3 separate regions of the Homo sapiens genome follow, and all the other regions are linked to region 1. Evidence: fine-mapped QTL for protein levels in blood plasma. A gene starts in region 1. Each other region holds a variant in brackets. All regions are shown on one strand. Distances are from middle to middle.

Region 1 (8,196 bases):
TCATTTAAACTACATGGGTCTTTCCTACAATTCTGAAGCCATAGTTCCCTAAACACAGTGCAATGTGCATTTATGTTTTTAAAATAGCACATAAAAGTGATCTCATATTCACTTTCATTTCCTTGCATTTTTGTATCTTCTTAGTTAAGACATCATCACGAGGAAAGGGTGAATTGTCAAATGTTGCTTGCAGGAGACAGCTGATCTTGCAAGGAAATTAGTCATTCGTATTTTGGGCATATGTTATCCATTCTACTTCCCTAACTGTCTAAGGACAGTGTGACTTTTAGGGTCTTAGGTATGCTTACTTGCCTTTTAGTGTGAGGTTGTATATTAATCTAGCTAGGAGCTGGGTTACGTCTAACATTTCCTGTAGATACAGCTGTCAGAAGCTAAAATTACCTGTAGTGTCTCTTTGTTGCCTCTACTGTATTTAGGTTCCCCTACAAACTTCCCTTTCAAAAAAAACCTTGCATCTCTTTCACCTGTCATCCACTGTTATCATACGGGAGCTCTGTTGACGGAGGGGTGAGATGTGGGGGCGGGGTGAGGTGTTCTATAGTCTTCTGATTAAATCTCAGTCTTTTAGTGGGCCCTTGTCCCCGGACTGTGACCTGTGACCTTCATGAGCGTTTCTAAACTTTTTTTTTTTTTTCCTTTTTCTCTGCCAAGTTGAACTGCAGCTGGAAGACTAGAGGGAGCGAGCATTGAATAGTTACCCTTCAGCTGCCTAGCTAAGATAACGCTCTGATAAACTCTTTTCACTGGGGAGTAAGCCTTTGTTACAGGAAATGCTCTACGTATATTTTAAAATCATTAGATTTCCCTTCTCTCTGCCAGGGACATCAGGTGATATTTTTTGGTATATACTGTGAGAACCAAGTTGTATTCCTGGAAGTAAAGCCTGTAAGTGTTTAGGGGGCGCCTTGAAGACTGCAGCCCCCAGGAGGCTCCAGTGCTCACACTGGTCCATACTCAGCCTCTTGCCAAATTCCTGCTTAGGTGTTCCTGCCAGTTTGTGGTTCCACTGGCATCAGCTGCAGGTGATCTGGTGTCTGCTGTGATGCTCTGTAATCTCCTCTCTCTCCCGGTTTCAGGCTGGTAGTTTCCTTGAGACCTCAGTTCTCTGATGGGTCCAAGACGTCATTGATTTTTAGTTTCTCCAGCTTTTTTCGTGGTGTCGAGATATGAGTGATGACTTCCAAGCTCTTTAGATGTTGAAGCTGCAACTAGAAGTCTTCCATGAACTTTCTTTTAAAAATAGACAGTATGGCATAGTGCAGTGTTTCTCAAAAGAAAATAAATATATTGATCTCTATACCTTATTAAGTGTTGATATATTATTTTATTATAATTTTATGTTAAAATAGAGAAACACGAATTTAGACCTAAACACTGTAAGCCTACAGTTCTTAACCAAGTTTTTGAAATATAATGCATATGTTAATTAAATTTTAAAATCTCGCAAAAAAATTAAAATTTTAACTAACACCACCAATTTAAGATTGTGTGGGCAAGCCAAAATATTATTATAGGTTTAATAGAAGGAAGATACTATTCAATTCTGATACTGTCCTTGGTCTGTTTCTGTATTTGACTTCAATAATTCTCATATAGGAAAGTTCTGTTTAATAAGGCTATATAAAATGTTACTGGTACCTTCACAGTTTTCTGCTTATGATTATCAAAGAAAAAGCTCTGCCAATATGCAATTTTTCAATGTCAATTTTATTAAAGAATGTTTTGATAATTCTGTAAATGCTTTATAATCCCACAGCAATATGTGTCCGTTGCAGCATTATTAAAATCTGTATTTATATCACTATTTACTTATTGCTTTGAATTAAGAACATGAAAAATTTTATCTCGAAACTTTATCATATATATATCATACAATAAATAAGTCATAATGTATTAACTATATATTATGACTAACAACCTGCTGTAACTTTAGACATACAAAAATACCTCTTAATGAGTGTAAAATGTTAACTCTTCTTTTGAGTTCAGTATACCTGTACCACAGTGAGTCCTAGGACATTTGAATCAATTCTCTCAAGCCATTTGCCTATTTGATTATGAATCTCTGTTTGGTCACTGGGCATAATCTTACATGGACCTCATTCTAGACACATATATCCATAAGCAACAAAAATAAAGTAATTGGGATCCATCACAATAACTATGAACAAAGTAACTATCCACATGATCTGGAATTTGCCCATATTTGTGGCTTGTTTTCTGTATACTGTTTTTGATGGAGATATTATAGTCCCCTAATAATACATATACCTACTTCAGCTTAAGAAAAAACTATATTTTGCCAAATTTTGTAATCAGACTGGGTTTAAATACCAGCTCTGATGACTCATAACTCTGATCTCGAGAAATTTACTTACCATCTCTAAACATTAATTTCTCAATTAGGGAAGTGATATGACAAAGTTGCTGTGAAGTCAAATGAAGGAATGAATGCAAAATCCCAACCCTTTACATATTACCTCTGTTCTCAATTAATCATTGGCTTGAACTGAACATTTTTAACATGGTTCCCTGCTAAAGGTGTTTTTACATATAGTAAGACCTAATAGATAATATTATGTTACATAATCTATAATTATTATATATAAAACTATATAAAATTATATAGTACCTATTTAGACATATAAAAAGGGAAGTTTTTTAATGAAAAATTAGATTGGCTGAAGAGTGTGGAAATCATCACATAGGGAAGTGGTCAGCACTGTGGATATACACCAAACAGTATTACAGAGACATACTGAAAATAAAGCACACTGACAGAAAGAAACCTCATTAGGATAGAATTTTGGGAGATTGGTGTCTTGTTATTCCCAGAGTCTGACTTTTCTAATCACGTAGCATTGTCAGGGATATCTAAATTTTAAACTTCAGATTTTGTACAAAAAAACCTAAAAGGACTATATTTTAAAATAAGAAGCATGTACAAATAATTGTAAAGGAAAGAGTGTGAGTTTTGTAGTCTCCAGTTCTGTGTCAGTAAGAATTTGATGAGGAATAGCCAATAGCATTTATGCTGGTCCAGGCTGGATCAAATTGTGATCGTACTTCTAGTCTTCAAGCTGCCTGGTTAGAAATTATGCAGCTTACTTTGATGCCTGTCCTACTACTACTATTAGCCTTTTAGTGGTTACCTTAAGAATAACTGAATAATACTGTTACTTTGCATCTCTCAAAGACCGTGCGCTGTTCCCGCATACTTTCTTGCAGACGTATTGTCTTCTGAAGGATGGTGCCCATGGGCACAGCAATTTGGGGCATCTTTTGGTAGGAAGCATGATTTCTCCTGTTTGGGCACAAAAGAGTGACTACGGAATATAAGCTAAACACCTTCTCCCAGAAATATCAGTTGTAAAACTTAGCTCATTAATGTAATGTTGAACGTTTTCATGTGAGTCATACTTGAACTTCTTGAATGTGAGTAAATAACGGAGTTGAATTGTATAAAACCCTGATGGATGGCAGAAGGGAAAGAACATCCCTTTCATCTGATCCATGCCTGAGATTCCTTCCCTCTACTATACTACTGGAAATAAACAACTTGTCTGGTGCTCTAAAAATTAATGCTATTATCATTATAGAGAGAACAGGAGTGAGTGCTTTTAGGTTATTACTTGTTCTTACTAAGGCATCATATTCTTTCTTCACGTGTTTTGTGTTTGAGGCTAGGGATAAAGGTACAGGAAAAAGGATCTAAGAAAAAAACTCGAATCTCTAAACATGGAGTCTTTTTTTTTTTTTTTTTTTTTGAGGTGGAGTCTCACTCTGTTGCCCAGGCTGGAGTGCAGTGGTGCGATCTCTGCTCACTGCAACCTCCGCCTCCTGGGTTCAAGCAATTCTTCAGCCTCAGCCTCCCGAGTAGCTGGGATTACAGGCGCATGCCTGGCCAATTTTTGTATTTTTAGTAGAGACTAGTTTCACCATGTTGGCCAGGCTGTTCTAGAGCTCCTGACCTCAAGTGATCCAGCCACCTCGGCCACCCAAAGTGCTGGGATTACAGGCATGAGCCACCACACCTAGCCAAACATGGAGTCTTTACTCAACATTATAGTAACGTGAAAGAGGAGATCATGAGAATTAATGTATGTTTTAGAAGGCATAGATTACTTATAAAAAAGGAAAGATCAGGCTGGGCACGGTGGCTCGCGCCTGTAATCCCAGCACTTTGGGAGGCCAAGGCGAGCGGACCATGAGGTCAGGGGATCAAGACCATCCTGACCAACATGGCGAAACCCTGTCTCTACTAAAATACAAAAAATTAGCCGGGTGTGATGGCACACGCCTGTAGAACCTGGGAGGCAGAGGTTGCAGTGAGCGGAGATCACACCACTGCACTCCACCCTGGTGAGACAGCGAGACTCCATCTCCAAAAAAAAAGGAAAGCTCAATCTGCTGTAAATTATGTGCTTGTTTCAACAACCCTTGTTTCTTTTCCTTTTCACTTCTCTTTTTTTTTTAAAGCGGCCTAAATGGGGTGAAGAGTGAGTTATCTGACAAATTTAGATTTTGCAAACCTGTGCATTGATGAGAGTGCTATTGAAACACATTAAGAAAGATTTTCAACGCAGGAATGTGTCATTTCCTTTCTTCATGTACCAGATGCTGAAATACTATGAGATAAAGATTTTAGGTTTCAATTGTAAAGAGAGAGAAGTGGATAAATCAGTGCTGCTTTCTTTAGGACGAAAGGTAAAGAAAAAAAAAGGCTTATTTTAATGTTTTTTCCAGAATTGTTTCTATTGATTGTTATGTGTGTACTCTGTGTGTGTGTGTGCATGCATGTGTGTGATATATATTTGTGTGTCTGTGTGTGTATGATGAGATGAATGCTTTATTGTATCAGCAATAATTTGGTTTGGTTTTTTTCGATAATCAAAAAATAGGGATTTCTGCTAAATTTTCCATGAGTGAAAAACATATATGTTCACAAGTACATATGAAATACACTAAATGCTTTGTAGTTTGAACCAGCAATGGGGTTTTTTCATATAATTAAGCATATTTTGTTTAAAATACTGGTTTTATTCAAAGTATAATTTGACATATTTCACCTATTCTCCTTTCATAACTTTTCATGGAACATTTTTGGCTTTAATCTAATGCCTTTTATTATCTTCCCTTGATTATATAGCAAATATTGGCTGGGTATCTACTATATGCACTTCATTGAACTAGATGTGGGGAAAGGATACAAAAAATAAGATATAGTTCTTTTTGTGCTCCGGAATCTTATGATTTAAAACATATCCCCAAATAGGCATAATGTAATTTGAGCACCTTAAGTAGTATGAAAGTACTATAGATAATTACTAGCACCTTAAGTAGTATGAAAATGCTATAGATAATTACTATGAAAATATAGGCGAGGCCAAAATTACTTCTATGTGAAAAAAGTCTATCAAAAATAAATCTTCATGGAGATGCTAGAAATCTGATTAATCTTGAAGACTAAGTAAGATTCACACAGCATATAATGGGAGGTTGGCATTTGCACTGACCAGGTAAAAATACTTATAGAAAAACCATAGAACTGAGATTACAGATGTTTTATGCAGTGATTAGCCGTTTTATGCAGTGGGTAAGAGCTAATCTTCTGGGAGTAGACTGCCTGTGTTCAAATTCCAGCTCCCCTGCTCCCTAGTTGAGTAACTTGACTAGTTACTTACACATTTCAGTTCCCTAACCTGTAAAATGGAGAAAATACTACTTGTACCTCATGAAGATTCCGTGAGAACAAAATAAGAAAAGCTCATATTTAAAAAAAAAGTGATATTTTAAAATAACAGGGATTCATATATTGATGGTTTTCTGTGTACCAGGCAATTTACAAAAATTATTTTTAATTCTCGCAATAATTCTTTAAATTTATATTGTGATCATATTTTACATATCTAAAGAAAGTTCAATTCAAATAAGTTAAAATATTTGCCTAAGATCACACAGCTAAATGATGTCACAGTCAATACTCAAATCTAGATTTCAGATTCAAAAGTTGATGCTCTTTCTTCTTTGCTACCAAGGATGAATATCAGTGACATCAGGCACAATATAAATATTTCCATTTCTTACTAAAATCTGTCTTACAGACGGGTTCCTTAAGCATAAAGCTGTTAGTTTCACAAATAATCTTAATTTAATTTTCATTTTATATACACATTCAACTGCTGTTACAAAAATCAAAGTTATTATTTTATATAATAAGGAGGATCACAAGCTTATTATTTATTCCAAATGTTGAAGATAAAGTTGGCCTTAAGAATATGATGGGCCGGGCACGGTGGCTCACGCCTGTAATCCCAGCACTTTGGGAGGCCAAGGCAGGTGGATTACCTGAGGTCGGGAGTTCAAGACCAGCCTGACCAACATGGAGAAACCCTGTCTCTACTGAAAATACAAAATTAGCCGGGCGTGGTGGTGCATGCTTGTAATCCCAGTTACTCCGGAGTCTGAGGCAGGAGAATCACATGAACCCAGGAGGCGGAGGTTGTGGTGAGCCAAGATCACGCCATTGCACTCCAGCCTGGGCAACAAGAGCGAAACTCCATCTCAAAAACAAAAAGAAAGAAAGAAAAAAGAAAGAATATGATAAAAAAACTAAATAGGGAAAAATCTTAGGAAAACGAATGCATGTCAAGTATGAAAAGACAGATGGTAAATATGTATTAAACATAAAGAGCTGATTCACATGCTTAGGTAAAAGAAACCTGTGGGGATGTATAAGCAGTGAATATGAATAGATAATAACCCAAGAAGAACAATGTATGACAGACAATTACAGTGAAATCTCTCTCTTACATTAATAATAAAAAATAAAAATGAAAACCACTTTTAGGTATTATTTAACTCTTATCAAAATCTAAATGATTCTAAAATAAGCTTTATTATTCAATGGTAGTGAATTTTGCTTGAAACTGCCATATTCACATATAAGTCTGGAATATTTATAAATTTATGTTATCTTTTTAAAGATCACTAAGACAGTAGAGCCCAAGAAGTTCAAAATAGTTTTCCTTTCACTTTTTAGTTTCACATATGATGAATTATCCTAAAGAAACATTTTAAAAGAAGAAAGCTAAATTATGAAAATAATGGCCGGGGCAGTGGCTCACATCTGTAATCCCAGCACTTTGGGAGGCCAAGGAGGGTGGATCACCTGAGGTCAGGAGTTTGAGACCAGCTGGATGAACGCGGTGAAAAATACAAAAATGAGCTGGGCATGGTGGCAAACGCCTATAATCCCGCTACTCGGGAAGCTGAGGCAGGAGAATCACGTGAACCCAGGAGGCAGAGGTTTCAGTCAGCTGAGATCACACCATTACACTCCAGCCTGGGTGACAAAGCAAGACTCAATCTCAAAAAAAAAAAAAAAAAGGAAATATTTATAACATCATTATTTATATCAGTGAAGCATTGCCCCCTGGGAAAAGGAAAAAAAGTTTAAAAGAAAAAATTATATTTTAGAAAAATGGCTGTATTTTTTATTTAGAAAAATGGCTGTATAAATAAGATTTTATATATATATAAAATATATATAAAATAAGATTTTATATATATATAAAATATATATAAAATAAGATTTTATATATATATAAAATATATATAAAATAAGATTTTATATATATATAAAATATATATAAAATAAGATTTTATATATATATAAAATATATATAAAATAAGATTTTATATATATATAAAATATATATAAAATATATATAAAATAAGATTTCATATATATAAAATATATAAAATATATATAAAATATGATTTTTTATATATAAAAATATATATAAAATAAGATTTTATATATAAAATATATAAAATATATATAAAATAAGATTTTATATATATAAAATATGATTTTATATATATAAAATATATATAAAATATATATAAAATAAGATTTTATATATATAAAATATATATAAAAATATATAAAATAAGATTTTATATATATATGAAATGTAAATAAGATTTTATATATATATGAAATGTAAATAAGATTTTATATATTTGAAATATAAATAAAATAAGATTATATCTAAATATATATAAAATAAGATTTTACATATATGAAATATATATAAAATAAGGTTTTACGTATATATGAAATATATGTAAAATAAGGTTTTACGTATATATGAAATATATGTAAAATAA
Region 2 (8,196 bases), 82 kb after region 1:
TACAGGCATGAGCCACTGTGCCCAGCCAGAAAACAATTTAAATGAACCCTCTTTTTATAATGCACCATTATAGAAAGAATATAATTTTTGGACAGTCTCCACATATTTTTTTCTGGTTTTAAATAGCAAACCTGGCTTAGCAGATAGAATCCTTAGTTTTAAGAACAATTAGTTTTGCAGCTGCAGGTAAAATGACTTATAGGAATAAAGTTTCAAGCATGCTCCTTTAAATAGGTTCTCTCATTTGGATGCACCTTTTTTTCTGACTAGACAAAACAAGTTTAATTAAGGAAGCACTGAGGGGCATCTACTGTTTATCAATGCACAGGGCAGGGAAAGGAGAGTGAGTCACTTTTTGCCCCGTATCCAGGCTTTCCCAGCTATTGTGCCTGTGGTCTCCCTGCAGCAAACTTGGATGAGTTTTATCATACAACAGTGGTACCTCCAAGAATTTGTTCCAGGTATATCTGAGCCTGTATGGATGCTGATGAGGGAAGTAAGATCTGGAGTAACTATTGCTTCTTCTCCTGAGTTTATAGTGCTGAAACTCCAAACCTGAAAAGAGAAACAAAAGTAATATATAAACATAAATGCCATTTAAAAGTTATTCTTAGCTGTCTTTTCTTTGCTTTTTTATTACCACTTTTACATACCATAATCAATTTTCTATGTGAAATTTTCAAAAAAAAAATGTAAGGGTAAACAGAAGGCAATCAAAAAATGCACCTCTATACCTCTGAACTATCCCTTAATGAATGGGAGTAAATATAATCTCAAAGATAAATAAATATATCAAAGGGTCACAAGTCAAATTTTTACATACTGCTCCTTGCATGTTGAATGTTTTAAAATGTAAACATTTGAATGTTAAATATTATGGAAAGTAGTATAGGGCTGGTCCATACAGCTGGGTAATCACAGAAAAATAGCATATTTTTTTCATAGAGAAAATAAGTAGGGCTAGCAGAGGTCATCAAAGTTGTACAAATTTACGTAGTCATTATGGTGGTTGGGGGTGGTTGGGGGTGGGTGGGAGTGGGAAGAAGGGTCAAGATTCATGCCTTAACCTTTCTCTCATACCATGCTTTCTCCACCAGATGGAACATCCTTCCAAGTCCTTTATACTTAAGATCTTCATTTCTAAAGAGCTTGCTTCTTCAGAATCTTAGTATCATGAAATATTAAAGGTAGACAAAGTCTTAAAGCTATGTTAGCCTTACTCCTTTATTCTGCATATCATAAAATTGAGGAAAAATGAGTGGTTTCTCTATAAGCACAAAACTACAATCCAAACTATAGGCTATATTGACCCATTCTTCTCTACTTTGATTCCCAAGGTGTTTTCAACTTTAATTTACATTGTTTTTCTCAATGGAGACACTGTTCACAAAACACTTCCCAACTAGGCTTAAAAGTCATACAAATTTATGTCACTCAGTCATGACTAGAAATAATGAAAATACACATTCAGGCACTTTTAACTATTAATGATATTTGCTCTCCCATTTATCTATTCAGCAGCTGATCTCAAATCTCATCATTTTATAATATATCTGGATGATGTATGAAACTGATTACCTTTTATTTTTCATGGAAATGCTGGTAAGATTAAAGATACCCAAATCCCCCAAAGAAATATCAGTATCTTTCATTTTTTAAAAAGAGGTGAAGAGGAGGTCAGGCACAGTGGCTCACCCCTGTAATCGCAGCACTTTGGGAGGCTGAGGTGGGTGGATCACAAGGTGAAGAGATCGAGACCATTCTGGCCAACATGGTGAAACCCCGTCTCTACTAAAAATACAAAAATTAACTGGGCGTGGTGGTGCACACCTGTAATCCCACCTACTCAGGAGGCTGAGGCAGGAGAATCATTTGAACCCAGGAAGCGGAAGTGCAGTGAGCCGAGATCACGCCATTGCACTCCAGCCTGGGCGATAGAGGGAGTGAGTCTCTGTCTCAAAAAAAAAAAAAAAAAAAAACTTAAAAAAAATATATAATCAATATCAATCCCTACAACCCTCAAATTATAAAGGAAATCATAGATATATATATGGCTAGGTATATAGGTGGAAAGATGAGAGAGAGAGAAAGAGAGGAAGAGGATTAGAGATTAAAAACATATCTAAGAAACACACGTAATTTTTGTATAGCTTTCCACCGAATAGAAAGAATAGTTCAGAGGCACAAAAAAAATAATAACAGTGACAGCCCCAACAACGAAGATCCTTGAATAACAGTTATTATCTAAAGAAATAAAAACAAATTTGTTTTTTATCTCATTGGTTTACACAAGGATAAAATTTTATGAATTTTATACTATCTGCATTAACTTTTTAATGCAGAAAACAATTTGGAATGAGACGGAAAATGTGTATTAAATAAATTTTTCCCCTGGGCTCAATAGTCTTGAATATATTAATATAAAAATAAAACAACAAATCTTTGGAAATTACTTCTATAATTCTATCTAGACATCTATGTAACCCATGAATATCACTAAGCTTTAAGTGTCATCATGTTCTGTTGCCTGGATCTATTCTTTGTAAATTTGAGAAAGTCATACACCCTTTCTCAGTCTCAGTTTATGTATCTATGAAATGGAGATAATTATCATTATTTAACAAGGTTATTATAAAAAGTAAATTTAGAAATGTATGTGAAAAGACCTAGCATATTACCTTATACACAAGCACTTAAAAAATTTTCACTGTGTCTGAAACTGTTCCACATAGCAAAAGACAGAGATACCAAATTCCACAATACATTTGTCACATCCATGTGTCCTCAGAGGAAAAATAACCAGAATAAGAATCAGAGGCTCTAGATGCCAGTATTTGCTCTGGCATGATTGTATATGTGATCTCAGTTGCTTCATCTACCTAGAACATAAGCCCTCCCAGGAAGTCAGTCCACAAGAGTATGGAGTTTGGTCTTGTTCACTCGTGTAGGCACCAAAGGAGATTTGCTAAATAAGTAAGTCTAATAATGAAGGAGGTTGCAGTAAGTCATTGATTTAAGGCAGTGGCTCAGGGTGGATACAGGGTGAGAATCCTGTGCGACTTTGAGCACGTACAGTTCCTTATCCTTGCTGATTTTCAGTTTCCTCAACAGTAAAATGACACAATAATGGCATTCAGTTTTTGAAAGTTATTTGAGGATTGCATGGAATAATACATCACATGTATAAGTGTTTCCTGCCACATAAGAAATTCTTAAAAGACTGGACTTAAATTTTCATTATCAGGACCACAACCTTGGTATTCTAACATTCGTGAATTCCCTTACTGCAATTTCTAAAAACATGTGCTTACATGTCAGCACATTAGTCAACTAAATAATTTCTTTCCTTTGCTATTCATGTTGGGATGGCCTTGCTGGTGCTGTAGACATTGGGAGAATTCCCACTCTCAGTTTCCTTTTCCTGGATTGTACAAATTCTGCACTGCTGAAATCTAAATTCACTGAGTAGACCTACAAAATACAATTCGAAAGCATCACAGTAGCCCGGGTTCACAATTCATGGAGCCATTCTCGCACTCTCCAAATTATGACAGAGCCATGGCTTTCACCAAAAGTTTAATTTCTGTTTGTTTATACAATTTATAAATGACAATAAATATAATAGATATAATTTATAAATGTCTCGTACTTCGGCTTCCTCCTGTATTAACATGGGAATAGTCTTACTATTTGTGCAATTGTTTTTATTTGCCTGTATTTTTAAGTAGCCCTTTGAGGCTTTCAAAAAGTTTTTATAGACTTTATATACTTATAAGGAAACACAGATATACAAATACGTATACACATACAAACATGCTCACACATACAATCACAAACACAATAGGAAACATGCCATGCCTAGTAAGATAATTTGGGAACTAAAAAGTGTCCCTGGCAAGGTTTCTGATTTTGAGATCATATTCCTTTTTTCTTTTCCTTCTTCTGCCTTAAAATTTCAAGTAAAAAAGCCTCAATACTGTTATAAACACCTCAAAAAATACTTGGGCTCTCCAACTTACTGTTAACACTCTTACAATTGATCAGCTCAGGAAAACCTTTGCTTTGTCATTTTCTTGCTGTTTGTTTGTGTTTGCAATCAGTAGCATTCTTAATCCATGATTTCCTTACAGGATGGTGTGTAGGCCCTTTGCTGATTAGATTAGTTCTACTTTAATTAAAAACAGATAATGTATTTGATAAACCAGGCACACATAAATTGAAATACACGGGAAGATAACAAAAGGAGGAAGATGCTGATATTAAGTTTTCCTTTTTCCGGTTTATTTTATGTGCAAATATACCCCAAGACCCTTTGACATACAGATACGCTTGGATCATCAGGTTATTACATGTACCCATGATTATTAAGGCTCAAACTTTCTTCTTTATTTTTAGATTAATAATAAAACTAATTTGTCAAATCCTTAAAAAAACATTCTTAATCTCTACTTTTATAGAACTGTGTAGGTAACTTTGTTAGAGCTCTTCTTACTTTGCATTTTAGTAGTTTACATGTTAACAGAGTATAAAGTGTTCTGAAGCAGGAGATTAATTTTTGATTCCTACTAGAGAGCACAGAACTTGCATACAGAAAATAATCAACACTTTTTTGTTTAATTAGTGAAGGAATTAATGGCTTTGCCCCACTCAAAGAGAAACACTAAACTCTAAACTTACTAATGCAGTTATACCTCATTATTGCAGGTACTGGTCCAATATGGCTGAATGAAGTGTTTTGTTTTGGGAGAGAATCATCTATTGAAGAATGTAAAATTCGGCAATGGGGGACAAGAGCCTGTTCAC[A/G]TTCTGAAGATGCTGGAGTCACTTGCACTTTATAATGCATCATATTTTCATTCACAACTATGAAATCGCTGCTCAAAAATGATTTTATTACCTTGTTCCTGTAAAATCCATTTAATCAATATTTAAGAGATTAAGAATATTGCCCAAATAATATTTTAGATTACAGGATTAATATATTGAACACCTTCATGCTTACTATTTTATGTCTATATTTAAATCATTTTAACTTCTATAGGTTTTTAAATGGAATTTTCTAATATAATGACTTATATGCTGAATTGAACATTTTGAAGTTTATAGCTTCCAGATTACAAAGGCCAAGGGTAATAGAAATGCATACCAGTAATTGGCTCCAATTCATAATATGTTCACCAGGAGATTACAATTTTTTGCTCTTCTTGTCTTTGTAATCTATTTAGTTGATTTTAATTACTTTCTGAATAACGGAAGGGATCAGAAGATATCTTTTGTGCCTAGATTGCAAAATCTCCAATCCACACATATTGTTTTAAAATAAGAATGTTATCCAACTATTAAGATATCTCAATGTGCAATAACTTGTGTATTAGATATCAATGTTAATGATATGTCTTGGCCACTATGGACCAGGGAGCTTATTTTTCTTGTCATGTACTGACAACTGTTTAATTGAATCATGAAGTAAATTGAAAGCAGGACATATGAGAAAACTGACCATCAGTATATTTGTCCAGATAATTGGTGGATCAAAAATGCCACTTAACAGGAAGTTTAGTTTGTTATGCACTTTAAATGGAATAATTAGCTTGTTACAATTCTAGGACATGGTGTTTAAAATTTAAATCTGATTAATCCATTTTAACAAACAATGCAAACATCTTCAGTGCAGAAGGAAGAGTGGTTTCAACTGTTTGGAGTCTTTTATGAAGTCAGTCAACATTTACAACCAAAGGGCGGGGGGGGGGGTGGGGGGTGCGTCTTTAGTCCTAAAGGGACAATAACTCTGAGCATGCCCCAAAAAAGTAGTTTAGCAACCTTTTGTTGGTAGTCAACCCATCCCCAGGGCCATAGTGTAGAGTGTGAAAAGCTACCCTGAAACCCAGTAATTCTACCCTGAAAGTGACTGCCTGCAGAAAGACCAGCAGTTGATATTAAAGCGCAAATGAATTCAACCTCAGCCCTGAAAATAACAGAATTCTGAAGTTTCCTATGACTAATTCACAAAAAAAGTAATTGTAAACTAGTACTATTATGGAATTACTCTACTGTTCTTTCTTTAATAGTGGCAAATGAAAGCATAAGCTTAAGCATTTTTTCATATTCTGAAGTCTCACCACACATAATAACCAAGTGGTAGACTCACAGCCGTCCAACTTAAAAAGGCAAAACCTTACCTTGGAATTGGAATTACTGTAAACAGCCTACTGAAAATGCATTTTTATCATGTAACATTCTTCTACTTGTTTAACATTGCTGATTTTCTCTGGCAGCATAATTTTGTGGTTAAGAGAATGAATTCTGAATGTACACTTTCTGTCTCAAACCCTGGCTGTAATTTCAGCTAGTTAATAATTCTTTGTGTTCAGTTCCACTATCTAGGTATTTTCTTCAAAAGGTAAATACAATGGTTTCTGAAAGAATCATTTGCATTATCAGCCTGTTTGGGATGTCTGAGATCAGTGCCTCTGGGTTGTTAATACTGTATTGCTGTATGGTATATGTATGCTGATTTACTACTTATGCGTAAGTGGTATGCATGGGATGTCTGAAATCAGTGCCTATGGGTTGTCAATAGTATTAACTATTAGTGTTAACTGTTAGTATTAACTATTAGTATTATTAACACTAATAATAGTACTATTACTATTACTATTTTTATTTTAAAATAAAATTTACCTTTAAAATAATAATAGTACTATTGCTAGTACTAGTACTATTGCTATTACTAGTACTATTACTAGTACTAGTACTATGACACTGTTAATAGTACTATTAACAACCCATAGGCACTTGGGATGTCTGAGATCAGTGCCTATGGGTTGTTAATACTATATTGCTGTATGGTATATGCATGCTGATTTACCACTTATGCATAGATATATCTTTAATAAGTAATCTAAAAATCCTTTTTGTATTTGAGAGAATCTACTAAGTTCAGTCCAGTCAAGAAAAGAACCTAATAGCACCAATACAAATTGAGGACTTAATTTACTTTGGAATGTTGAATTGCATTTGTTCCATTAAAAAAAACAGAAATTTGCGATTTGGTTTTTTTGAAAAAATAGCTCAGCTGACCAGAATGAATGTATTCTACTTGTTGAGCCATCCAGCATCACGTTAAATGCAAAATGTATATATAAATAAAAGAAGAAGAAAAAAGAAAGACCAAAGGGATGTAGAAAATGAAGAATAACCATTAATATCTAAGGGCCAAACACATTCCACCTAAATTATCTAAATAGTTTCAAATCAAAACTTTCCATTTTTTCAAAACGTATAGACCATAGTAGTTTGTACTTAAGTAAAGCATTACATTAATTTGTAATGTGCCTATTACAAATAATATACAGTTGACCCTTGAACAATGCAGAGGTTGGGAGCACTGATCCCTTCACAGTGAAAAATCCACATATAACTTTTGACTCCCCCAAAACTTAGCCACTGAGAGCCTACTGGTGACCAGAATCCTTACCAATAACATAAATAGTCAATTAACCATTTTTGTATTACTAATAATGTCAACTAACACATTTTATATGCATGATGTACTGTATTCTTACAAAAAAATAAACTAGAGGAAAGAAAACTTTAATTAAATCATAAGGAAGAGAAATATATTTACTATTAATCAAGTGGAAGTGAACCATCATAAATGTCTTCATCCTTCATTGTTGTTTTCATATTGAGTAGTCTGAGAAGGAGAAAGAGGGGGAGTTGGATTTGCTGTCTCAGGAATCGTAGAGGTGGAAGATCCATGTATAAGTGGAACAGTGCACAGTTCAAACACATATTGTTTAAGGGTTGACTGTAATAATATTTGCTATGAAGGGTAAAATGAAATATTTCTACCCTCAGTCATTTGTTTGATCAGTATGGCAGTGATATGTATGTCCAAAGCAATCACACTCAAGAGATACAAATTTACCATCACTGGGTTACAATGGTAAGCATTATTTACTCTCCGGAGTTGGAGAAGCTCAAGGCTGGTGAAGCTCAAGATCTCATGTTAACTAAATAAAATCAAGATTATGGCAGAGAGGAGGAAAAAGTCAATGTTTGTCAGGTAGACAATTAACAATGTTCCCTCAGAAAAGCACAATTAGGAGATGATTACGTTGAGATTTTTTTAATTCATTGAGACAGTATATAGGAATTTTAGGAACATGTGTTTGGCACTAGATGTGGTTTTGGCTT
Region 3 (8,196 bases), 39 kb after region 1:
TCTGATTTAACCCAACTAGCTTTAAGACCTTGAGCAACTCACTCTCTGACCCTCTATAAATATGTTTAGTTAAACAATGTTTAAAGTGTCTTCCAGATTAAACATATCTAAATCAATGAGCATGAAAACTAGAGAAAAAAAAAAGAAGCAGGTTTAGGCAGCAATAGACTAGAAGATGTGGCAGATTTTTATGATGATCTGAATATGAGACAAGATTGAAAACGGAGTAGAAGATTAATGCTCATAATGAATAAAAACTAGAGAAGCATCGCTCTGGAAACTTAGTCAGATATTATTAGTGCTATGTTATCGTCTGAGGATTTTAAATGATATGATACACCTGGGTTTGTTTTTCTAGTAAATTGTGTAATTTTGTTCTATGATATTGATGATTATCAAATATTATATATCAGTACTTTTTTGTGGTTATATAGAAATATTACTTTTCCTTTTTAAGAAGTAATCATGGAGGAAGCTACATAGTAGATTTTGTGCATGTGTTGTATAAAGGTAATTCTTCATGGCAGATTATTGTGATAGTATTTATGAATTATTCCTGTAACTGTAATTGGAAATATTAAAGATGAAAAATAATGTAAATTCTATGGCTTCTTGAACTAGAATAAATCATATATTTTGGCCAATATTAACCCATTTTTTTTGACATGTATCAGCAAGGGAGCTGACAGGTAGCATTTTGTCCATTTATTGATGCAACGAGGCAGTTATTATGTCAGTATGGAACAAAATTTTGAAAAGACTAAATGGAAACTACGAACAAAAGGTGACTACAAGAGACTCTAAGTCTTTATTCTTTTTTCCATAATATGACAGAATAGGTTACTGCATTTCCTTAATTTGATAGAGACATTGCAAAACGGATTCTTATCAAAAAGAAGAAGAAAGCCAACACTGAGGGAACTAGGAGGTGAAACAGATAAAACACATTCAGACTAGATTAAAAATCTCTAGCAATAGTCCAGCTGTGTGATGGTGAAGACGTGAGCTACAATGGGAATGGAGAGGAGGCTAGTTTTGGAAGGTGGCAAGGTAGTGGATAGTGTTCTTAAAAGTTCTGCATCAGAAACTAAGAGTAAAGTGGTATATAATTTGTTATTTTATTCCCCCAATGAATCTAAAAGACACTTAAAACATTTATTGAGATCCTTCCAACATTTTGTTAGAAACAGTAAAAGATCTATAACAATGTACAAAAATGAAACATAATGTGAGATTAATGTTACATGAAGAATAGAATGACAATAAAAAGGTACATTCAACATGCCTAGTTAGAACTCTAACAAAAATCTTTACCTGTTTTTCTTATTGTAGGATTCGAATACCAGGTATCAGTATTTTTATATAAAAATACAGAGAGGGATCTTTAACTCCAAATTTTGTAAAATAATACTGATCTATTCGCTGTGATTGAACTAATACTCCAAAATTAAGTATACAGTTCCCATAATTACATGTAATATAATTGAAAGGATAGTTAGTAATTAGGAGAGTTCCTTCCATCTCTTACTTACCAAAGAAATGGTGAGAAGTCCATCTCAGAGGCTAAGAGTCTAGATCTATTCTCTGTGTCCCTTGTTTCTTCTTGTTTCATGTTCTAGTTTTTCCTGGAATGTCTGCGTCTTGCTTTGGATCCTGAGTTACTAAACTGAAATCTTTGCTTGCGCACTTTTTTCAAAATACCATCCTTGATTACTATCCCTGTGCTTCCCTTCAATTAGCTCAACAAAATTCAGGCATAAATTGAGTGTCTGTCCTGCTTGCCCCCCTCCCCTGGGATTCATTGCTATGTAGTGTTGAATGGATGCAGCTGCGTTCATGGTTATGGAAGTTACCATAACTCCATTTTCTTGGGAAGTACTACATTCTTCTGCAGGGAATAGGGGGCACATAGAGATTCCCTTTGATACAGAAATCTTACATTTCTTGTGCAGCATTTAAATATATGTCTCGCAGCAATTAAGCTATACCTTAGAATATAATACACCAGTTAATTTCTAAAAGCCCTGTAACATGTTGTTTGCATGACGATTATGTGGAAAAAAAAAATACACGTACACACTTAGGAAAGAAATGGTAAAGATCTTTAGTTAAAATAACACAACTACGAATTATATTCTTCCTCACGCTTTTTCTAGGCTTTTATGTTTCCTATAAGTAGAGTTGCTTTTATAATAAAAATACAATTAAATGTGTGTCCAATGTTGCATATGAGGAGAAAGGGACATTCTATTGAGAAGAGTAATAATGATATCTTGGGCCTCTAAAACCCAAATTGTACCTTGAAAATGGGACATACCAGAGGAATAGACAGAAGTAGAGTCAAGGATGTCAAAATAAGCAACAACAAAATGTACAAAATATACTTATTCATGAGATAATCTTTATTTATTTATGTGGTTCCCCCTCTTAGATTTCTTCGGGTATTATGTCTCCCACCTGATTAAAATTTGTAAACAAGTGCATTCTAACCAGGGATGCTGTATATATTTGTTTTCCTTGGACTATGTATGTGTCCAAACTAGCAATTGAAAATGCTTCCTTTAAAATATCACTATTTCCTTATTCTGTGGTGAATCTATGGAATAATGTTTCTTTCTGTTTCTTTCTTCTGGTGTTGAAAAGGAAACTAAGTGCTCTTCTTTAGATAAAGAAGAGATTATTTGTCCTCTGTACTCCATATGGAACATGGTGTTTAGGTAGGATTACCTTTGAGTTCTAAAGACATGCTAGGTATAATCATTTTAAAGGCATGATGAGCAGGTATCTGTTTTGCTGGACACAGAAAATACAAATGGCTAAATCAGGGTTGTTTAGTTACAGCTCTCAGGAGAGCCACCTGAAAAAAAATGATGAGACCAAAGTTTTCCTTGCAATGTCTCCATTTTGTTTACAGTATTTATAGCAACCTAGAAATTCTACTTAATATTTTACTTGAAAAAAGAATTCCTCTACTCATTTTCACCTTCCTGCCTTTCCTCATGCCTTTCTCAATCCCTAGGAATTGTCTTCCTTCCCCTTCCCTTCATTCTTGAAAGTACCCCTCATATCCTACTTTCTCAATGAAGACTTCAACCATCACCATTCACGCCGATCTACAGTTCACTGACAAATATCTGAGTTTATGGTCAGTTCCAACAAAGTGCTTTCTGGTTGTCTACCATGTGTGAATTTTCCTTTCCCTTGAGGGTATCACAAATGTCTTTTAAGTTCTTACTTATAGATTTTCCGTATAGTAGCTAATTCTGTATTATATCTAACTCTATGTCTAACTGCCTAGGATGCGTACAACACTAATGTGACTTTGTGCCAGCCTGCTGTCTTTTCTCTGCCCCCAGGTTCTCAGAACATAGAAAAGTGTTAGGCACACTCACATTTAATATACTGTTAGGTTGTTTACTTTGAGGCAATGTCATCCTCATTAGTATAGGGCATTATATTCCTGAATAGCAGAATACTCCTCCATTCATGAAGTTCAGTATTATACATTCTATATTATTGCACAACAAATAGAAGACTTTGGATTTCCTTATATAAGTACCTTGACAGATGACTAACCCATTTTTCCTATGCTTTACAACTATGATCAGTAACTGTAATTTTTTTAAAGGTCCTCCTGGACCCCCGGGTGAAAAAGGAGATCGAGGTCCCACTGGAGAAAGTGGTCCA[C/T]GAGGATTTCCAGGTCCAATAGGTATGGTAATTTTAGCTATTTAATCATATACTGTGAAGATAGATGATATACATCCAGGTACATGTGTAGGGGAGGATTGCTATTTTATTTATATCCTGCAGAGGATGTGTATGTGTGTGTGTGTGTGTATGCACGCACATGTGTGTATATGTGTGTGTGTTTTGGGGGATTAGTAAATGTTCTAGTAGCCTAATCACATAATACACTGAATGATAAGCATTACTCATGACTGTTGAAGAAAATAAATGCTTTAACCAGAGTAACCAAATGGAATTGTTTGTAAGTCTAGATAGTGACATGTATATAATAGACAGCAAACAGTATAAGGCAGACCTAACCGTAGATCATATGTGAAGGGGAGTACAACAATTATCTTTGCGTTGAATAAATCATCTTCACATTTGCAAGCTATCTCATTTTTAAGACATAAAAACTCACACTAGTAGTGAGTTATGAATCACAAGCAAATTGGACTATATTTCTTATATAGTATTTGGAATATATCTGTTTAAACTAATGAAATCTGAATGTAAATATTGGCTAAAATATGGATGACACTTACCTTGCTGACAGTCACTCTCTGTGCTTTACTAAGAGCAAAACTGTTTCAAATTATTTTCCTCTAAGTTGTAATCTTGAAAGAAATATTTTGAAAGAAGACACAGAAGAGAGAACATGAACTTTCTTTGCTTGAAAAAATAAAAAAGATAATAACATGATTGTCATGTTAGCCTTGGCTTGAAATCAAATATCCTGCATGCCGTTTGATGGTAGGAAGTATACTGCAAGGTCTAATTATAAGTAGAATGGTTTGTGTTACCAAAACATGTCTAAATACCATGTACTTCATCTTATTTTTCTGTCTTTTGATTATATAAAAGGTTCTTCTTTCTGATCAGTGTATTGACTAGCCCTGGTCACATCAGAAAAATTTTTGAAAATGAGAAGCATGAACTTGATACCTGCCTAAGCACATATATGTATATATATGTATATAAATATATATGGCATATTATATGTGAAGATAGATGATATACATCCAGGTACACATGTTTTATATATATAAAATAGCAATCCTACCCATATATATAATATGCCAAGTCAGGTGGTATTAGTATTGATGTGCTTTTGAATGCCTTGCCAGGAAAGAATTTTTATTCAGGAAAGTCTTTCTACTTGACTAATGCTAATCAGATATTAACAATGCTGCATTAATGTCATAAGCAGAGGAAATAACCAGTATTAAATCTGCTGCCAGAACTACCATTGTCAAGGGTCTATCACCCCCTCCATACAGGCTGCAATTGTCAGAGCTTTATAACTCAACCATAAAAATTCAGTCTGGGCTACATCTTGCCATACAGTGCTTCATCTTGGGAGAATCTTCTGCAGCTGTTTCTGAACTGTGAATGTATGAAATAGAAGGATTTATAAATTTCAGCTTGTGTTAATGTTATAAATAGACACCATTGCAAAGAATCTTTGATTTTGTTTTTTTTTTATTGTAAATTAACGATTTGTCATGGTTTAAATTTACAGGGTAAAAAGTGATGTCATAATTTGTTGCTTTTGGTACTGCTCATTTACACAAATAGGCATTACCCAGTTCCTCATAAAAGACAGGTCGAGTTCCTGGGGTAATCAATGACTCTTCTAGGTTATCAGGTTACCATTTTGTTTGGTGCACTACAAGAAAAGTATTCAAAATACCAGGCATCTTTCCTAATGAATTATTTCTGGATGTCTTGCTGCATTCTGTTCGTTTCTCCACCAGATTGTCTAATTGCCTTATATTTGATGCCGAAATCAGGAAGCAAAGAGTATATGATGGACAATCATACTAATTCTGCTTTCTAATCTGAGCAGGTTTATTGCTTCCCCATCTCTACATCCATTTGAGCCTACTAAACTCAGCTTGACCAAGTCAAACTCACCTAGACTCACAATCATGATGCGAATATCTGCAAAACCTAAGTGGTTGTCCTAGTAGCCTCAAATAACTAATACATTAAATATAGTAGAATTATTATTCATATACTAGGGTGGATATTATGTTTAAATATGCTTTATTCCCCAAATAATAACAAATTTATTTTAGAGGGCTATTTCCTTGAAAGCATGCTAGGGAGAATGACCTATCACTTTTCACTCAAAAACTATGTGCTGAGCACTTTCTCCAGGCCTGGTGTTCTACAATACCCTATAGAGTATGTGTAAACAGATACAGAATCTCTGAATTCACAGCGCTTCCAGGATGATAAGTAGTAATATAAGGGAGGCAAATGTCATGATCAAGGATTTTTTATCTCATGTGAGTTTCTTTTAAGGGGCTGATTTTACCCATGACAACAATGTTTTGAAGGAGAAGCAACTTTCTTTTCTAAAGGAAACTTTGTGTGGGCCATCTAAGAAGCTGTTTATGCCCAATGTGATCAATAACAAGGTAGTTTGACCTGTAGGCATGGGTGGGGCTACCTACATGAGATGCCCTCGAGAGAACTGAAGGCTTCTCTGGCTGCAAACTTTTCATCATCAACCAGTACTATTTACTTCCTTACGTAGTCTGAATTTTCCACCATAGGAATCGTGCTTCCAGAAGAGAAAATAAAGCTCATCTTACCCATAGATATTGGAAGAGAGGAACCATATTTTATTAATGTTTATATCCACGTATATCTTTACCCTGGCCCGCCCCTTCCCATAGGCTATGGCCCCAAGAAGGCCCCTCCCTAAAGCTTCAGCAAGGACAGGATCCTTAAATATACACCTGAGTAAGGAATGTTGCCTGGCTGCAGGCTGTCGCTCTACACCTGAGTATTGAAAGTGGGTTTTTTCTGGAAGTAACAAATTGTGCCAGTGAATCAAAAAATGTCACTGCTAACTGTGTACGTATCATTTAATAAAACTAAATTTAGAAGCCTTTACAACAGGCTGGTAAAAATAATGATTGTATTACTGAGGAGGAGGATGAGGAAGAGGGGGAGGAGAACAAGAAAAGCTAACATTTACAAAGTAGTCATTACATGCCAGGCACTTTTCTAAGTGTTTTACGTGTATGAGCTCTTTTAACTATCACATCAGCCTGATGATGCAGAAACAAATAATACACCCATTTTACAGGTGCAATGCACAGTAAAGTTAAATGACTTGCTTGAGGTCAATCAGCAACTGGTAAGTGGCAAAGCTGGTATTTGAACCCCAATGGGCATGAGTGCAGAGTCCATGCCCTTAACCAGTCTGCTACTTTGCAGGAAGGAGCCTGAATGGAGCAGGACACCTAGGACATGTGAATAATTATCAGACCAGCTTTATGTAAGTGATTTGATCACTCTGGTCTCATGGAACTGTCTCTAAAATGATGGATTCTGACTTGATGATGTCTAACGTCTCTTTGAACATCCCATGGCTGAGATTCCATGTAACTGTACTTATATTGTCCATGAGTTAGAAGCAGGTGCCAGACCCTTTCCCATTGCCACAGATTATTGTAGAAAATTAGTTAATTGCCTCCTGAAAGCCTCAGGGTATCTGATCTTATGGAATAAAGTTCAACAGCTGTGCTTACATTTTGGGGACTACATTTTGAACCATCATTAAACAAACAAGTCACATAACTCCATAGGCCATATAGAGTCTGCTTAACCATCTCCAAGAACAGAGGTCTATGACTGCCTGATTTCTATGAAAGTATCTCATATGCTTCATTTACAGAGTTATTTGTTCATTCATTGAAAATGTACTTGATTTGTAGTTGAACATCCTTGATTTTTAGTTGAACAGCTGTGTTCTGAGCATCACTGTGAGGTACTTGAGAAGTCAGCATTGGAGGGGCTTCTCTGATGCTCTTATGGCCCCAAGATGCTCCTGTCTAAAGCAGGCAACATGGCATTCTCTGCCATGGGATCAAGTGAGACTGGGTGAACGAGTTCTCTCTGAATTGATAATGACAAAATAAGATGCCTAAACTGTTACAATAGTTTATCAAGAACTACTGAACTCTAGGATAAAATATTTTATTTCACTGGAATATAACATTTTCTTTTATATACAGTTGTTATGATCACCATAGTAATATTGGGTAAAAAAAATAGCCATTTTCAGTTTTCATTTAAGCATATGAAACCCTGGATTTGTGTAAGTATATAGTACATACTCATAAGTAAATCTGTGTATCGCATGTGTGTGTGTGTGTGTGTGTGTGTGTGTGTGTGTTTATGTTTATGTTTATTTACCCTGGGATTACAATGAAATATGTAAGAACAGGTCCATGATAGATAAAGTAATATATTTCAGAGCCAAGACACCAATTTATTTTATAAAACACTCGTTGATACTTTACATTGCTTGAGTTGCATTTTTTTCTAAGGCAAATCTTAAGAATTCAATTTTCAGCTTATGCATTTTAAAGTTATTATTTCAGCTACAGCAAGATCCTGCCATTTGATGATTACTGGTTGACTACATAAGTCTTTTGGTTAAAACTCCAA

Which allele goes with the higher level. Alleles are on the strand shown, and positions count from the first base shown. The strength of an association depends on the size of the effect and on how common the allele is. Not every link is listed here.
As copies of A replace G in region 2, the plasma level of the protein whose gene starts at base 4,675 in region 1 goes up (moderate association).

What was found. PIP is the chance, under the fine-mapping model, that this variant and not a neighbour inherited with it causes the effect. The UK Biobank Pharma Proteomics Project read protein levels with antibody pairs (Olink). The fine-mapping took linkage between variants from a reference panel, not from the people measured, so its PIPs are less certain.
Region 2: its variant is fine-mapped to the plasma level of the MSR1 protein (UK Biobank, PIP above 0.99). The variant lies in the coding sequence of MSR1. If it changes the protein, the assay may bind it differently, which can mimic a change of level.
Region 3: its variant is fine-mapped to the plasma level of the MSR1 protein (UK Biobank, PIP above 0.99). The variant lies in the coding sequence of MSR1. If it changes the protein, the assay may bind it differently, which can mimic a change of level.

What each region holds. Positions count from the first base shown.
Region 1 is chr8:16,189,130-16,197,325 of GRCh38, reverse strand. It overlaps MSR1 (macrophage scavenger receptor 1), which reads left to right and starts at 4,675. Exons shown (of 10, transcript NM_138715.3): 1 at 4,675-4,728.
Region 2 is chr8:16,106,727-16,114,922 of GRCh38, reverse strand. MSR1 (macrophage scavenger receptor 1) reads left to right here. Exons shown (of 10, transcript NM_138715.3): 10 at 4,705-7,042. The coding sequence ends at 4,838. Among named protein-coding and RNA genes, the nearest start is that of MSR1, 82 kb to the left of the region's middle. The variant A/G (reference allele first, on the strand shown) is at 4,804.
Region 3 is chr8:16,150,577-16,158,772 of GRCh38, reverse strand. It overlaps MSR1 (macrophage scavenger receptor 1), which reads left to right. Exons shown (of 10, transcript NM_138715.3): 6 at 3,629-3,709. Among named protein-coding and RNA genes, the nearest start is that of MSR1, 38 kb to the left of the region's middle. The variant C/T (reference allele first, on the strand shown) is at 3,688.